Regions from separate parts of the Homo sapiens genome. Here region 1 is linked to region 2. Evidence: fine-mapped expression QTL. A gene starts in region 2. The other region holds a variant in brackets. All regions are shown on one strand. Distances are from middle to middle.

Region 1 (5,383 bases), 70 kb after region 2:
ACTTTTAAGGACTGTAGAAGTGGATCTAGTTAGCAATTGTTCTGTTGTTTCTGGTTATTATTTCTCATAGCTATAAATTTATCAAGTCCTTGTCAGTACCAGGTTGTGCCAGCATATCCTGTAGAGCATTCTCCTGATGTGTGTTTTCCCTGTTTTGAATACTTCTTGGTTTCTAATTCTAATATGCATAGAATGGATATATGTCCCAAAACAATAAGTAGTGTTTATATAGGAAAAATGTATATTAACTTCCTAAAATTACATTTCTTTTTAACAAAAAGAGCAGGAAAAGTCTGAAGTTTCAAATATAATTGGTAGATTCAGAATCACGTGTAGATGTTCTACAAAGCTCATTCGGTATTTATAAGGGAATTTGCTTCTCCGTTGTTACTGGTGCTAATAAAGGGCATATTGCTACAAGCAACGCAACTTTTTGTTAATAATGTATTAATTGGGAAGTGGAATTTTAAGCATGTTTTCATCCTAATGTGATAACTTGTATGTATGTGTGTATATTATGTTTTAGTTATTTTTTAGAAAGTTGGTTGGAGGTTTTGTTTTGACATGTACTGCATTTCATTTTCCATTTCAAATAATGAAAAACAGTCTCCCAGTTAGTATTTTTGCATAGAACCACTAATTTTCAGATGCTTACTGACATTAACAGGAAGATTCCTGTATGAATTGGTATCCTTAATATAACAGAGATGGTGAAATTCTAGATGTAGGATGTAGTCTTGGATTTATTAAAAAAAAAAATAAAAGTTAGCCTTAGCTAATAGTAGTCCTAATCAAAGATATATTGAGTTAAAAAAAAAAACTTGAAAGCTGTGGGCTATGTTTATATGTAAATTTCAGAGGCCAACTATAAGTCCCATCACCCTCCTTGTAGTCTCATTTTGTACATATCTCTTATGAATTGTAATATTATATTTAGTTAGATGCTCAAAAAGTGCTGCTGAAAGAATTTTCAATAAATAATGGAACGTAAATTTTCAGAGCACTAGAGAAGAATGAGTCTCTCCAGCTCATACTGCCTCCTTTTCTTCTGTCTTTGTGTTTGCTTTTTCCTTTCTTTCTGCTTAACCTTTTCTCTATATTTTATTTTTCTCTTTTCCTAACTGGACATAATGTACAATTGAAATACTAAGTTTCTGTACCTCATATTTACAGTATTTTCTTCGCTAAGTGTTTTAGAATATGACAAAATTTAGCTGGGGAATATGCCATGTTTCCTTACTATATGTAGCTGTCATCATTCCGAAAGAACTTATAGAGTACTTCTCATTTGAGTCTACCAAAATGATGATCTAAAATATTCCATTTTAATGACTGTGGAAAGTATAATGTTTAAACTATACTTAAAATCACTTCATCTACCAGAAAATTGATCTGAAGTCTGCCCCTCCTGTTTCTGAAAAAGTGCTAATAAACATACATTCTGTGGGCATTTTCTCACTTCCCTATAGGTGACATGCTTCGTTATATTCAGGAGAGTAAGGAACGAGCTGCAGAAATGGTAAAAGCAGAGGTACTGCGAGAACGTCAAGAAACCGCCCGAAAGATGCGCAAATATTATTTGATTTGCCTCCAACAGATTTTGCAGGATGATGGAAAAGAAGGGTGAGTTCAGTCTGAACAATGTGTCCTGAGATTACCAGGACAACATGTTATCATTTTTAAAGCATTTTCCTTAACCACTAAATTAACTATTTCTACATGATCAGCCATAGGGGGTTAAGAGAGGTTTATGGCTGTGCTACCCTAAATGTTGGCAGAGCCAATAGGAAAACAGAAACCATGGGGCTAAGGCAACTCATTTTTTCCTTTAAACTATATTTTTAATATTCTGGAATTCCCCACAGGGCTGAGAAAAAGATTATGAATGCTGCTAGCAAACTTGCTACAATGGCAAAATTACTGGAAACACCTATTTCTAGTAAGTCCCAAAGCAAAACTACACAGTCAGGTATGTCAAAGTGAGTCGCCAAATGGTTTTTCTATCTTTTCTTCTTTAGCTATTTAATATTTTCAGTATGAAGAAGGCAGGGAAGGTAAGGAGTGAGAGTTAATTTGTGAAGTTTTGTATGTTTTACTTAAACTAGAAGTTTACGCAAAAAGAGTACACAGTTTCCAATTTAAGTAGGCAGACTGAGCATGCCCATCAGTTTCCTATTGCTGCTTCCATCCCTCGAAATGATAGAAAAGATTTTAAACAGCAAATAAAGAATGAGAAAAAGAAGAAATTATAAGTGGGTTTTAAAAAGTTGCAGTGGGCCAGGCATCATGGCTCACACCTGTAATCCCAGCACTTTGGGAGGCTGAGGTGGGAGGATCCCTTGATCCCAGGAATTTGAGGTTGCAGTAAGCTATGATTGTGCCACTGTACTCCAGCCTGGGTGACAGAGTGAGGCCCTGTCTCAAAAAAAAAAAAAAAAAGTTTGCAGTGGATAGACCAGAAGCTACAAGAAATCCCTGAGAGAAAGAAGACAGTATAGGATGGAAGATGGAAACCTCAGTTCAAAACCACCGGGAGATGACTATTGCAATTAGGAGCAATATCAAAACTGTTCCACATATGAGGGTGATATGTTCCAGGAGAAATAGAGGGCCTAGGGGATATGAATGGGGTAATTAG[T/C]TGGTGTTCTAAACCAACAGCAACCAGGTGGGGTTAATCCTCTCTTTATTTCTTCTTCTCCCCTCCTTTCCCCAACCTCAATATTGAGCTGGGCAACAACAACAGGAACAAAGAATCTGGGAGCAGGGCAGTGCTCCAGGTGGCTAGCCATATCAAGCAGGAACTGGGAGCCGACTTGCCTTGGGAGGCTGAGATGGGAGGATCACTTGAGTCCGGGAGGTCAAGGCTGCAGTGAGCTGTGATCGCACCACTGCACTCCAGCCTGGGAAACAGAGCAGACCCTGTCTCAAAAAAAAAAAAAAAAAAAAAAAAAAAAGTAAGAGTAACCAACAAAAACATAGAACGTATAACTTTAAAACTGGTAAAGGAAAAACTTGGAAAAAAACATTTTCAATCTAACAAAATCAGGAAAGAGGAAAAAAACCTAGAGAGCGTGGGTAAGTAGGACATAATAGTAGTTTGAAACATCAACAATCACACTAAATATAAGTAGGTTAAACTCATATAAGTTATTAAAAGACCACAACTTTCAAATAGGGTTTTTAAAAATGTGGAAATTTGCTATTTTTACAAGAAGAACATCTAAAATTAAAAATCAGGGGATGGAGAATGATATACCAAGCAAATGCAGTGTTGATATTAGATAAATTATAGAGGTAAATAAAAGATTAGATAAATTAGAGTTAGCATTAAAAGGGACAAAGCTGATAGTTCATAATGATAATGGAATAGTCTCCCAAGAAACTGTAATTGTTTTCTTTCTGTAGATCATACAGCTTTATATAAAGCAAGAGCTGATAGAAATACATGAAAAAGACTGGTAAATTCCCAATCACACTGAGAGATTTTTAACATATCAGTGGGGAAATGGGGTTCTTGAACCTCTGGAAAACTTGAAGCTGAGATTGTTCAGGGGTCCATGAGTCTGATGTTGGTAAACATTCCTCATGTACAAGCCAAAGATTATTTGTATAAATTTTGGAATGGTGATGTGAACCTTAGGTATGAAAAGGCAGTAACATATAACAAGAAAATAATTTTCTAGATCTGGGGCAACAGTGTGCAAATAATGTCCCCAGTAGAGAAGCAAATCCTTTTCATGGACTCTAGGGCTTGCTACTCTGAGATACAATGCCTCTAATTTCATGCTATGTGGCTGCTTTGTCTTTGATCAGATTTAGTGTCTTAGGTAATTAAATCAGAAAGTCTATTTAGCTATTCTAGAAGTGTATGTGTAGGTATTGGGTGGGTGGGGTTCTTTGAGCGAACTTGTCAGAAACTCCATTCTTAACATCAGAATCAGGGCAGGATTGAAAACATTGTGGCTGGATCTTGAAATTGCTATAACATCTATTGCAGAAAATGATAGGTCAGATGGATAGCAATAATAATTATATATCAGATCTTAGTAACAAAATTACCAAGCTTTATCTAGTGGATATATGTAAAAGAATATTTTTAAATGTCCAGCATTGATGTATTTTCTTTAAGAATTATTACAGTATATAAGCATTCTTTGGGAATACAGTATAAAAACATAAATTTTTTCTTATTTTTAATTTTTTTTATTTTTTTGTTCAAGGATGAATCTTCCCTTTAAATATTAATTTTCTCTTAATTTCGTGTTTCCTTGCACATAATAGCACTGCCCCTAACTTCAGAGATGCTGATTGCAGTTAAAAAATCAAAAAGAAATGATGTGAATCAGAAAATACCATGTTGTATTGAAAGCAAATCAAATAGTGTAAACACCATCACCAGAACTCTGTGCGAACAAGCTCCCAAGAGGAGGGCAGCTTGTAACTTACAAAGGCTGTTAGAGAACTCAGAGCATCAGAGCATAAAGCATGTGGGATCCAAAGAGACACATTTGGAATTCCAGTTTGGGGATGGTAGTTGCAAGCACCTAAACAGTTTGCCAAGGAATGTTTCTCCTGAGTTTGTTCCTTGTGAAGGTGAAGGAGGCTTTGGTTTGCACAAGAAGAAAGACCTACTCAGTGATAATGGTTCTGAATCACTTCCGCATTCAGCTGCATACCCCTTTCTTGGAACCTTAGGAAATAAACCCTCACCTAGATGTACCCCTGGTCCTTCTGAATCAGGATGCATGCATATAACCTTTCGCGATTCTAATGAAAGACTTGGTTTAAAAGTATATAAATGCAATCCACTAATGGAAAGTGAAAATGCTGCATCTGAGAAAAGTCAAGGTTTGGATGTTCAGGAACCTCCAGTAAAAGATGGAGGGGACCTTAGTGACTGCTTGGGCTGGCCTTCCAGCAGTGCAACCTTATCCTTTGACAGTCGTGAAGCATCATTTGTACATGGTAGGCCACAAGGAACTTTGGAAATACCAAGTGAATCTGTTAAATCCAAACAGTTTTCACCATCCGGTTATCTTTCAGATACAGAGGAAAGTAATATGATTTGTCAAACAATGAAATGTCAGCGTTATCAAACTCCATACCTGTCAGAAGAAACCACGTATTTGGAGCCAGGAAAGATCAGTGTGAATTGTGGACACCCATCTCGTCATAAGGCTGATAGATTAAAGTCAGATTTCAAAAAACTGAGCAGTACATTACCATCTTCAGTGTGTCAGCAGCCTTCAAGAAAATTAATTGTTCCGCTATCTAGCCAACAAGATAGTGGCTTTGATAGCCCATTTGTTAATCTAGACTAATTATGGTACAGTATTTAAGAAGAATCATTAATATATTAACAAAAATGGAAGGGAAGACCTCA
Region 2 (5,383 bases):
TGGGTATTATCATCCCTATTTTCAGATAAGGACTTTGAGGCTTTTGAGTGTTAAATTGTTATGGACAATGCTAGTAGGTAGGAGAACTGGGACTTGAACTCAGATCTTCTTACTCTAAGTTCTGTGTTCCTTTGAAGATAGTACTCCTTGATGATAGCACTTTGGATAGCACTCCTGTGATGACATTGCTTTGACCTGATAGCTTTGACACCAAAAAGGAGGAAAAAGGAGAAATAATGGTTTAGCTTTACCTTTATAAATGCTTGTTAGTGGGAGGGACCCCATCTCATCAACAATGTGACATTTTCTCTTGAAATGTCTCACCCAGCTCATAGGTGTGCCCATTTAAAACATGCAAGGTAAACATCGAGCCAACGTTTCACAAATAATCTTTTGTCCAGCATTTGAGATCTTTGGCAGTTTTACTTTCTTCTCCCACACTTGCCTTTCTTATCCCAGAATGCCTCTGTCTGCTTGTGTTTCTTTGGATGTTAGATTCATTCCTTGTGCACACCATTACCTGACCTCTGTAGAATGCCCTTCCTATTCTCCCAGGCTTAAAGCTCTTCTATGGACCACCTCCTTCCTGCCTTCTTCTCCAGACTTACATCTAAATGTAAGATTCCTGCACTTTTGCTGGTCTGGCCTTTAAATTGCACTCATGCTAATCAACTGACCTGTTGAGCTCTCTCCTTCTCTTCTTCCTTGAACCTGCCTTGATAGATTCATCTTTAGGTGTTCACTTTCCCTAGAATTATTGCCTATTCTACTCTTATTACACTTAGTAAACAATTTTTATTATTATTTATCTTTCTACGTAAGCATCTTGTAACTCAGAGTGTTGGTACCTTGAGCATAGGGGTCCTACCCTGCACCTAGGCCAGGACTTAAACAGGATAGGTGGTCAAAGAAATTTAGTTGAATATATCCATAACTCCACCAAAAACCATTTTTAGAGGCATGGCAGGATGGGAGGTTGATTTATTCTTTATTTTCCCTCTTTGTCACGTATATGCTAGTCTCACTAAAATATTTTGTATGTAGTGATGAGCTCTGGGTTTGGAGATAAAGGACCTGGTTTCAGATTCTGTCTGCCTTGTATTAGCTGTGTAGCCTTGGACAAGTCATTTAATTTATTTTTATGTAAGTTTCTTCAACTGGAAAATGGGTAGGAATACCTGTCCTAACCCCCCACAGTGTTGTAGTGAGAACCAAATGAGATGATGCTTGTGAAAGAATTTACCAATCTGTAAAGCACTGTGTAATGGATTATAAACACTGCCTCCTCATGTGCTTACCCTGACACGTTTTATGCTTTCATCCTTCTAAGAAGCAGTTGTTTGTGCATGGGGATCACCTGGCATTCTTGCTGCAGCACTCCATCATAACCCTCAGCACAGAATGCAACATACAGTTTGCCAATCGACTTCAGTGGGATGTGAAAAGTGAAAAGTGCATTTAATTCTCACTAAGATGCCTTGGCTCAGATTCAACAAATGCCATTTACTTGAAGGCCTTTTATTTGCTTTTTCTGCCTGCCCCCCTGCCAAAATCTTCATCTATTTGTTCATTTATTCATTTACTCATTTAACATAATTGTTTTGAGTGCCTACCAGGGTCATGTTAGACACCCAAGAAGTAAAGTGAGTACTTCAAGATATTCACGTTGTACTGAGTGTAAGACACACAAAAACTTACAGTAGATAAAAGAACTATAATAGGATATATAGGATACACTGTGTACAGAGGTAGGAAAGATCATTTTTGCGAAGTGAGGGAGTGTGTGTCATGAAAGGCTTCAAAGGAGGTGCTAGTCTGTCTTCAAAACTAAGTAGCAGGAGAAGGTAGAGGCGATGCAGGTGAAAGAAACAGCTTTCACAGCAGGTGAAAGAAAAAAAGCGCTCTGGGAACCATTGTTAGCTCAGGCTGTGATTTCGTTCATTCTATTACAGTGGGTTAAATTACCTGTTGTTTGCCAAACCCTATACCAGTTTATGGGGTTACAGGGGTCAGTGTAGGCATCATGGGGGCGGACGGTGAAGTAGCAAAGGAAAACCAGCCACAGTATGAAGAGCCTCGAACAACCATTTTACTCCGTGCCAGTACACATGGGAAAGGGTTGAAAGGATATGTGAACCTGCCGCCACCAATTCCTTGATTATTCACTGGAACCCTTTCAGCCAGAGAAGATAGACACAGTACTGGGCTTTACTGAGGACTGGGTGGCGCTGTCTTTAGGGGCAGGTTAATAATATACACCTAAGTGACAAGAACACTCACACCCGAGGAAATTAGAGTAGTAAATAGACACGTGGAAAAATGTGCCATCTTATCAGTAATTAAAGAAGCAAAAATGTAAACAAAGCGGCACCTAGTAAGGTAGAAGACAAAGCAAAATATCTAAGGCTGTTAAATAATGGGGAAGCAGGCGCCTTAGAAAACAAGGGCAAATGTAAAAAACCTCTAAGGCAAGAGTTCGGTGGGGAATCTGCGGGATTCTGTGTGCTGAAGCGCAGGAGGCACGAGTCACCTTTGCAGTCTCCGGTACCAAACGGGCAAGGGGTCCCCGTAAGACTGCTGCACCCTGGCCGAAGGTAGCGGGTGAAGCGCCTCGGCGTCTCTAGGCAACCGATCAGCCCGCCCACTCCGGGGTGACTTCCTCGTAATTGGCTCTCGAATCCACCAATGGGCGCACAGGGGGAGCTTCCCGCCACCTCTGGCGCCCGCTTTCAAACAGCCGTACTTTGCAACTGCAGGTGGACTTCTCAACCAAGCTTGAGGAAGGCGGAGACTTCTGCCTCCTCGCTCTGCCCTGAGCTGGCACGGCTCCGCCCACCGGGCGAGCTTCTAGTCGGCGATTGAAGGATGCGAGTGCTCCTTAAGGGCCTCCGCCCCGTGAGTTCGGTTGTGACTAGGAAGGAGCTAGTGGACTAGAGCCAGGGTAAGGGGATCTGCTAGAAGTTGGTCTTCCGCCAGGACTAGAGTTTCCTCGCGGTAACAGCCTCCGTGGCCTCCGGTAAGTTCTGATTCACGGGTGAGCTTGGACCTGGGGTTAGAGGAGTTGCGGGGTCCTCGGGATGCTGGCTGAGGGTTCCTGGGGGGGCTGACCTGCCCCCTCCCCAAATCCCGCGGTGGTGGACTGCCCGCATGTTGCGGGCTCAGCTTTTACCTTAACGTGTCATTTAGACCTCTTCATTCCTCCAATATCCTACTTAGAAGTGACATATGGGAAGCCCGCCTCGTTTCCAGGCTGCTGGGGTCGCCCTGAGACCCTACTCTGCGGACCCCGCCTTGGTCACCCTGGCGTCACGCCTGGCTCACAGTAGGTGCTCTGTGCACGTGTGTTGACCGAGTACAAGTGACGCTGGCACCCGAAGCCAGTAGCCCCGGGCATCCTGGGCCCCGTGCGGCTTTGGTCATGTTTGTAGTGCCGTAGCTGACGCCAAACAGTTCCTCAAGGTCATTCGCTCAGCCTGTGGATGCTTATTGTGTATTAGCATTACTCGCTCCGCCCTCTGGGCAACTTGAATCAATTTGTCCAAAGTGCTGTTATTAGCACTGATCACAAGATGTTGTGATCATTTGTTTATATGTCTATTTTCTTTCCCTTCATCGTGTCCTGTTAAACTTTGTAATCTTGAACAGTGCTTGGTAAATTGTCGAATGAATGAATAAGGTGTCTCCACCAGGTGTTGCAAGTCTAAACCGGGCTATGTGCTCTGGCTATTTCCATTCTAGAAGGCGAGTTATGTCAGCAAGTAAGTAGAATTTCCCAACTCCAAGTGCAGTTCTTAGAAACCCCTTTTGTGGGGGTTTATAACCCTTCCTATATCGTAGTCATGAACTTGAGTCTGATTTAAGCCTATTATCACCTTATACCTTCATAGTGCGTGACAATGAACATGCACTCCCTAGACAGGTGAATGCACTCAACTAAAGAGAAGCTGAAGTTGAAGCCATAAGAAAAGCATAAGAAATACAGTCTGAAAGTGCAAAGGAGTGGCCAGCTCCATGGGGGAACAGGCTTGGGAGGGCATCTTGAAGGAGGGTGGCATTTTTGTTCCATAGGAGGTTGCATTATTAGAAGTGACATTTCTCATAGGCTGCACATTCACCTTTTCTCAGATATGCGGAATCCTCTTTATTCCCTAAACCTCTTCGGTAGCTGGCAGACTCCTATTCATCAGTAATAATGTCATAATAGTAATAAAACTACAATGTATTGATTGGTACATAGTGCTAATTACTTTACATGTAGTATCTTGTGAATCCTCAGAATCAATCTTTGAAGTAGGTATTATTTTTACCCCCATTTCTTTAACGTAGAAGCAGAAACAGTTTGCTCAAGATTGCACTGCTGATAAATAGAAGAGCCAGAATTGAGCCCAGGTTGTCTGAATGAGTGCCCTCATTCTTAGAACCACTTATAGCCATATTGTGTCCTTTAAGATTTATTTCTAATCTAAAAGCTCTTTTTTTTCTGTAAAACTTCTCTAAACTATCCTTTCTTCTTAGGAAAAGTAATTTGTGCTTTGTACTTTCATCTACTACGGAATTTATTACAATATGTTATTGTAACTGTTTATATCAGTGGCTCTATCTAAGAGAGGGTGAGCAGAGACAGTGAGCTCCTCATGGCTGGTACCATGTCTTAGGTGCATCTAGGATATGATCTGGAACACAGTGGGTATTCAATAAAATTTTATTGAAGTAATGAATTCGTATAAGGTAACATGCCTATATCATATTCAGTCAACAAATATTTGTTATGTACCCACCATGTGCAAGCAGGCAGATACATTTTAATTCTGCCTTCAGGGTGCTTATAGTTTATTAGATGAAGCAAAAACAATGCTACTTTTGCTTTGTAATCTTTTGTCCAAATACCCATTGCTTTTGTTGCAAGGAGGGCAGAGAAAACAACCGGGGACAACAAAAGGAATGCTGGGTCAGAGCATCCATCTGAGTGTAACAACAAGACATACTTTTTATAGTCTTGTTAAGGGTTCAGAAAAAGTTATCTAGGAAGAAAGTCTACCAGACTGCTATTGAAGAAGAAAACCAAAACATACTGTATACTTAATCTGCATCTTGATTTCTCAAGTGGTCAGCCTTGAGTCAATAGATATAGAAAATTTTCAGTATTTTTACTAGTGGCATAGTATTGACAAATTAATTCAAAATAATTTTACTAGTGTAAATGTTAATTTTCAATATATTAATATTGATAGTTTTCAAGATGGTTTAGCAGTTGATATTTTCACCAGCAACTCATGAGCCATACAAAATACAAAATAGTCACCACTGGGTGATAACAAGTTTTTTTTTTGTTTGTTTGTTTTTTCAATCTAGTGGTTGAAAATGGCATATTGTTTAAATGACA

Evidence for each region. PIP is the estimated chance that this variant, and not a neighbour inherited with it, causes the effect.
Region 1: its variant is the best candidate, but not a certain one, in a credible set for the expression of CEP152 in whole blood (TOPMed, PIP 0.67).

The regions. Positions count from the first base shown.
Region 1 is chr15:48,738,187-48,743,569 of GRCh38, reverse strand. CEP152 (centrosomal protein 152) reads left to right here. Exons shown (of 27, transcript NM_001194998.2): 25 at 1,470-1,623; 26 at 1,866-1,969; 27 at 4,282-5,383. The coding sequence ends at 5,321. Among named protein-coding and RNA genes, the nearest start is that of CEP152, 70 kb to the left of the region's middle. The variant T/C (reference allele first, on the strand shown) is at 2,639.
Region 2 is chr15:48,808,594-48,813,976 of GRCh38, reverse strand. CEP152 (centrosomal protein 152) reads left to right here and starts at 2,908. Exons shown (of 27, transcript NM_001194998.2): 1 at 2,908-3,016. LOC124903487 (a long non-coding RNA gene) reads right to left here and starts at 3,279. Exons shown (of 2, transcript XR_007064626.1): 1 at 3,170-3,279; 2 at 2,068-3,046. RefSeq lists enhancers at 2,479-2,538, 3,197-3,758 and a silencer at 2,714-2,904.